2 linked regions of the Homo sapiens genome follow. The protein of the gene in region 1 purifies or fractionates together with the protein of each later gene. This does not show direct contact. Each region holds a gene or a part of one and is shown on either strand. Other genes may lie near its edges.

Region 1 (3,825 bases):
AGCAATAAAACATCTAAGGTGTTCTTTTTAGTGAAATGGCTTTTTTTTTATTGCAAGTGCATGACTACTTGTACAATTGGTGTCATTGCAATGACGTCTGCTAAGGTGCCATCACTCCTTTAATACCACGGTGTAAAAGTCAACACAGTGAAAGGGCAAATAATGTCTTAATCTACTGAGTTTCTTTTCAATTCTCTCTCTCTAACCATAAGAGAGCATCAAGATCCCCCAGATGCTTGCTAACGTCAAAAAAAGCTTTCTAAGCAGGAGGGGGATCGGGAAACACATCTTTAGGAACAAGCTAGTTTCTCAAAAATATTCACCTGAAAACCAAGATAGTGATTTTTTTTTAAGACTCTCAAATCACACCTGTTATAGGATGTTTGCCAGCTAAGTCTGTGCAAAGTCCTGAAATACGGTGAGAAAATGGTCAATCCATAAATGAGAAACACTTGTGACAATTCGCTGTGACAATTTACTTCCTCCAAAATGATTTTCTTATGCATATTATACATATATATAAAATATGGAGATATGTACATACACACGTGTGTGTGTGTGTGTGTGTGTGTGTGTGTGTATGGAGAGAGAGAAAGAAAGAGAGACAGAGAGAGATTGAGAGAGAGAGAGAGATAGACATGGGGTTTCATTATATTGCCCAGGCTGATCTTAAATTATGGCCTCAAGTGATTCTCCTGCCTCGGTCTCCTTTAGAGGCATGAGCCACCACACATCCCAAAATCACTTTCTATCAAAACTCTCTATTTTTCTATTCTACTACATTTCAAAATAAGCCAAGAAGGAAACTCAAACTAAGAAGAAAAGCACAATTTCCCAAAAGTATACCTACTTTGGAAGCTCCCAGAAACAGCTGATTGTTGACTTCACACTAATAAAGTGCACTAATTTTGGCTTCCACCCAGGAAAATCTCATCACTGAACTACCAAAGACACATATATATCTCAATATAGAGGCAAGCTTTAGCATCACCACACCAGAAATTTCTTAGGTTCTAATTACACATTGTTATACTGAAGCAGGCAAAGGAGAGTTGGAAACCCAACAGCAGGCCAAGCTTGATGAATAGGATATAACATTTAGCAAATGAATGGGATGGCATTAGCTATTAGTCCGTGATAAAAATCTGTAGATAAAAGTCCTTCCAGTTACCATCATAGTCTATTATGTACTAATGGTGTGGCTTTTGCCTATAAATTTAGCCCATTGTTGCTAGAAGTAGAGTAAATCAACCACCTACATCTGAATAACTTGAGGTGCTTGTTAAAAAGTGAGGATTCTTTGGGTCCATTCCAAATCTATTAAATCATAATCACTGAGATTGGAGCCTAGGAATCTCTGTCTTTAACACTTCCCAGGTGGTTTTTATGCACAATAATGTCTGCATGGAAACCTGACTGAATCCCTGACTGAGCCTCAGATTCCTTATCTGTAAAGCAGAATTGACTGTCATCATACTTTCCTATTTCACAGTTGTTGAGTATTGAGGATCAATCAAAAATATATGGGAAATGCTTTTTAAAGCTGCCAAGTGCTACAAAAATGATTATAACCATCTAAACTTCTACCACCTACACTTCTACCAACACCTCTTCTAAAAACTAAAAGTAAAAAAAGGTAAAAATAATTTTTCAAAGACACTACAGATATCTTAATTCTTGCAACTAAATCTCAGATAACTAGAATACTCAGAAAATAGTCTTCCCGTTAATATTTAACTGAACATTCTGGTCACTCTTTTGAAAAACCTTAAATGTGTTCCTACATTGTCTTTCCTTGGTAAATGCATAACTTAGTTTTTATCCGATGACAAGGGATTTTCGAGCTGGGTCAGAATTCTGAGTATCAGGTTTTGTTGCACAAGATTTATGCTTAGAAGAGTAATCTATGTTCGGCCCTGAGCTCATTTGCTAAAAGGTTTCTTGTTTATTTTTTCTTGTTTGGGGGGTATTTTATGGTTGATGGAGGCATGCTTATTTTAACCAAAAGCAGATCTCTAATTACAAGTTGTATTCCAAATGCTTATTTGTTCCTAAGTTGTCTGGAACTTAAATGCCTCTCCCCATAGTAAGAAAAAAAAAGAAGTTATAAATCATGATAAAGTTCTCTGGCTTGTACAAAAAGGCCACAATATAGATGAAATACATTTGCTGTATCTTAAATGTCACACAAATATTTTACAATGGTAGTCATCAAACTTGAGAGCAAAATTGAATATGAAACTATTTTCATTTACCTTTAACATTGCTACTTAAGATAAAAAGAGTCAGCTGGATGAAGATGAAAAGCTGATACAGCCGGGCGTGGTGGCTCACGCCTGTAATCCCAGCACTTTGGGAGGCCGAGGCGGGCAGATCACTTGAGGTCAGGAGTTCGAGACCAGCCTGGCCAACATGGCAAAACCCTGTCTCTACTAAAAATACAAAAAAAAAAAAAAAAAAAAATTAGCCAGGTGTGGTGGTGTGCGCCTGTAATCCCAGCTACTCAGGAGGCTAAGGCAGGATAATCACTTGAACCCGGGAGGCAGACAGAGGTTGCAGTGAGCCAAGTTCACTCCACTGCACTTCAGCCTGCACTACAAAGTGAAACTCCGTTTCAAAAAAAAAAAAAAGGCTGATAGATAAAAATTTCTGTAAATGCTCTAGAAAGGTTAATGGCCCCCAGTTCTTTATTATACAGAACACATAAGGTCTCTCAATGTGACCACCAAGGATTTTCTTCAGAGTCATGATTAGGATATGATGGGGGCAGGAGATGACAAAACTGAGTGTCCAAAGTTAACTAAACAAGTGAAATAGAAATTAGCAAAGTGCTTTTGAAACAGTAGCTACGTATCCCTGAGAAAGAGACAACATGGAGTGGAAACAGCTGAGCTACAAATGGTGAAAAAGAAATACCAGAACAAGATTCAAGGCAGAAGAAAAGAAGGGACAGAAAGCAATGCTGAAGAAGAGCGAAGAATCACAAAGACTGAATTCAGGGTGTGGCAGCAAAGTTATCAAAACCAAAGAGGCCTTGGTGTAAGTGAAGGAGGCTCTCCTTCATACATGCCGACTGCCACACTTGGAGTGTCTGTACCTGAGAGAATGTTCACTGACTAGATTTCTGATTCTGAATCCACGTTATCACAGAGGCCCCGTCTGCCTTCTTCTTAGGCACCTTCACCTTAGTTGGGTACTTCTGTTCCTTCACTATCTCCTCCATCTCCCTATACCCAAATAAAATTATATCCCAGTTTTAATCTTACCCCTGAATTTATACCCAAGTGTCATCTCTATGTGGATTCCTGACCATCACAGACCCTATGGGTCCCTGCTTGTGTATTTAGTCTTCCCATCTTCCCCTTTTCCAAATCAAAGTGTGGCTCAGTCTAACAAAAAATGCAGTACATTCATTCAAGCAATTAAAAGCTGACATTGAGTGTCAGGTACTATCCTCTGCCTAATAGTAAAAACAACAGTCTTGGGTTCCTAGGAATCCTTTATGTATTTTATTAGAACATGTGAAACAAATACCATAAGGGACACAGAGAACACTTCTCTGGCCTCTTAAGATGCTCTGGTTATTCTGAAATTAAAATGTTCAACTATGGCTGGACAGATAACAAATTTTATAAACCAAAGGAGCAATGTCAACTCCAAGTCTGATTAAGAGCAGAGACTTAGCTTGAACATTCTTCCTTCCATATTCTAGAGTTAAGATAATGGATCATAAGGGAAGGAAAAGGAAGCTAATTGAATTATAATTTTTACACCCAAATCTCAAATAATGCCAGCTTCTGCCTCTTATAAAGAAGTCTTTCACAG
Region 2 (3,541 bases), on another chromosome or scaffold:
TCGTGTTTTATTCTCTTTTCTCCACACTGCCCTGGATCCTCCGCTGCTCTGGACATCTTGAGGTCTGAGGCAGAGACCTGTGTGACAGCACGATTGCGGAAAGAGAAGGTTTCTCAGATCAGAGAGCCTTCATGGGAAATTTTCTTACTTGAAAGCACTCTTAGATGTTCTCTTCCCTTTTACTCAACAAAGAGCCAGAGTGCTTGTGATCTGGCAAAGGAAGATGAATGGGGCAGAATCACTGCCTGGAAAGATCTTTGCAGAGAGGGACGTAACCCTCCGTCCTGAAAAAGGCCAGACCTAACCTGCTCGGCCTCGCCTCCCTCCCTGCCCTCACAGAGGCCCTCGGCTGGGTGAGGGCCTGGCCTTGTTGCTCAGAATTTCCAGACCAGCCTCTTTTTTGCCCTCCTGGTTACATTCCCCAGGTTCCCCATCTGAAGAATGATCTGTGCTTCTCTCTGACTTGACTCAGAGGCTAAATGACAAAGCCATCTTCTTGTCACTTCAACAACATAAGTTCACTGGCATGCTTTGAACATACTACAGGCTCCAGGCTTCCTTCCTCGCTCTTTTCTTCCAGTTCCAGTGGTGAGTTTCACTTTCTCCTCTTTTGCAGCTTTAAGAGTAAGGTCTACTCCCCACTGATCCAGTATATTCCTGTTCATGGAAGGGGCAGACCTGCCCATCCCACAGTACGGTAACTACTTCCAGTTCTTCAGCCATTCTGGAATTAGAGCCACAGCCAGGAAGGGGGAGTTTCCTGGCCTTCCTCCAGCTTCACATCCACACCTCACAGCCTGCTTCCTTGAGGAAAGACCAGAAGGATCATCTAGTCCAATACCCTCATGTTATGGAAGGAAGTGCTTCCTGAGGTCACCTGGCTTGAGAGTTAGACTAAGGATGACCTCTCGGCTCTCAGGACTCAACCCAGTGTGTCCATTCCATGACTGCATTGTGCAGCCTCCCCGTATGAACAGACTGCAGTGACCAAGGAGAGGAGCAGAGGCTCTCCTGGACATGGCTGCAGAGATACCCTGAGGGGACACAGGTGCCTTCCTTGTCAAGATGCTGCTGGTCATGTTCTGTGTTCTCTTACTTGATGCTGAATGCATCACCAGTAGCAAAGGGGAACAGGGGCAACCCTCAGGAATGTGTGTGTAGAGTCTGAGATACTAAGTTTAGAGGATCTCGTCCATAGGGTGGCTAGAAACAGAGAGGAAATGGGTATGGGTAGGGGCAGAGAACTAATCTGAAGCAACTGAAAAAAAAAAAAAAGAAACTACATCATCTGTCTAGAAAGTAAAACGCCATATAGATTTGATTAATTCACAAGCAAACATACTTTTCTCTGAAAGATGGGCAGATGTAGATGAGAAAGGGAGAGAAAAACGAGAAGAAAGAAGTAGGATTCAGTAATGTGCAAAATATGTTAGTGACTGTGTGTGCGGATGTGTGCGTGGATGAATGGTGTGACACAGGTCAGCAGGAAGCTGCAATTCACACCTGGTGATGAGGACATCTGGTCCTTGTCTTGAACATCACCTGGGCCTATGGGTGAGCTGGGGCAGACAGTCCTCAACAATGTACGGAGAGGGCCCTGTGTGGCCCTGGGCACAGCCCTTCAGCACTGGGTGAGCTGGGGCAGACAGTCCTCAACGATGTACGGAGAGGGCCCTGTGTGGCCCTGGGCACAGCCCTTCAGTACAGCAGGAAGATGAGGAGGGCTTCCCCTCACATTACCATCCCCCAAAAAAGTTACAATAAATTTCTGACAAACGAGAGCAATTGTTTCAAGTAGCTCTGTGTCTCCCTTCTCCTACCACTCCCATCTGTCACCCATGCGCATGTCAGAGAGGACAATTCTGGTTTAATTTCCTGCAGTAGCATATAAAACAGATTAAGGAAATATAAAATTGGAGCAGGCTGGTGTTGGGAAAAGCTTATCTCTTTCCATTAAATTTTATTTTTTTTAATGGTAGCATTTAAAAAGAGCCTGCACATAATCTTTCACAGAGCACTCATTTGAAGCCTCCAAGGAGGGTGCCTGCTACACCCACATCCAGACTCGAAATGTCACATGAGAAAAGCAGCATAGCTTGTCTGCCACATTACAGGCATACAGTTAACTCAGTAATAGAGAAAGGGTCCCCAGAATTGATTTCAATCTCATCTGTTTTTTTAAGTAATTTTAGAATTGTGGTCATATATTAAATAAAATGAATTTAAATCAAATCATAAAGTTGGAAACAATATACCTCTCCTATTAATTTTAATATGAATATATTAAGCTTATCAAGGATCTCAAACAGTTTCTACCATGAGCTTGAGGAATCTAGTAAGTGACTTCCCAAGTATGATTTAAATATGGATATAAAATCAGAGGGAAAAGAAATGTATGCATGATAAGAACCCCTGGAATCAAATCACGACGGGAAAAAATAAAGCAGGTTTTCTTATTCTGCCCAACTCAGAATGAAAGAAAAGCAGAGGGTGGGGCACAGGGAGGAGGAAGCTGGTCTGGGGCATTCAAAGGAGGAAATGCAAGAAGCAAGAGGTACAACACATTAAGCAGCTCTGGAGGCACAAAAAGCCCTTTGCAAGGACAGCAGAGAATCCCAAAGACTTTGATGATCCACCTCAGCTCAGCAGCACCCCTGGAGACCCCACTCCACTCTACATCTTGGATAACTTCAAGTGTGTATTCCGCTGGAGGAATATGTCCTTTTGGGAGGCAGAATTTCCTTAGAGATAACATCTACCCATTCATTCACTCAATACTGTCTGAGCAGCTTTAATGAATAAAACTTGGCCCTTGCCCTGGGAGAAGCTCTGGCATAGTCAGAGGGACAGAATGTAAATACCAGATCATTGCAGTGGAACAGTGTGTGTTCAACAGAGATGCAAAGTGCTGGGGCGCCCAGAGGAAGGAGGAACCAGGTGGCCCCACGGCACCCTCAGGAGGGGTTACAGATGTGGTGAGCTCAGGTCTGTGCTTTCCAGTGGTAGTAGCCATTCCAGAAAAAGCATGGCTGTTGTATCACTGTTTAATCAATCAATCAGTACATATTAATTGAACTCTGAGAGACTCTGAAGAAGTTATGTTTCCTCAGCTAAATAATGAGACTGGACAATATAAATTCTAAGGGCAACCCAAGTCCCAATGTGTTGTACAATGTGCCATGCCAGACACAGCTACAAGGCGTGGATTTGGTTTTGTTTCCAAATATTGTTACTGATTTCTAATTTAATTCCATTGTGGTCAGATAATTTACTTTGTATTAACTTGAATCTTTTTATGTTTATTGATATCTGTTTTGTGGCATAAAATGGTCTCTTTTGGTATTATAGTTACTTAAAAATGTGCATTCTGTTATTGCTGGGTGAAGTGTTTTCTAAATGTCAGGTCCCATTGGTTGATGGTGTTATGGAATTATTTTGTATCCCTCCTCAGTTTCTGTCTAGTTGTTCTACCAACTGTTGACAGAGGAGGTCTGATGTTCCCAGCTGTGCTTGTCTATTTGCTCATTTCTCCTTTCAGTTC

Evidence for each region.
Region 2: the proteins of ENPP1 (region 1) and SMYD3 purify together in Homo sapiens (affinity purification with mass spectrometry; one large-scale study listed by BioGRID and IntAct). This does not show direct contact.

What each region holds. Positions count from the first base shown.
Region 1 is NC_000006.12:131,814,510-131,818,334, reverse strand, and holds part of ENPP1 (ectonucleotide pyrophosphatase/phosphodiesterase family member 1), read right to left. Parts: intron 1-3,825. UniProt on the Homo sapiens protein: Nucleotide pyrophosphatase that generates diphosphate (PPi) and functions in bone mineralization and soft tissue calcification by regulating pyrophosphate levels.
Region 2 is NC_000001.11:245,751,991-245,755,531, forward strand, and holds part of SMYD3 (histone-lysine N-methyltransferase SMYD3), read right to left. Parts: intron 1-3,541. UniProt on the Homo sapiens protein: Histone methyltransferase. Specifically methylates 'Lys-4' of histone H3, inducing di- and tri-methylation, but not monomethylation. Also methylates 'Lys-5' of histone H4.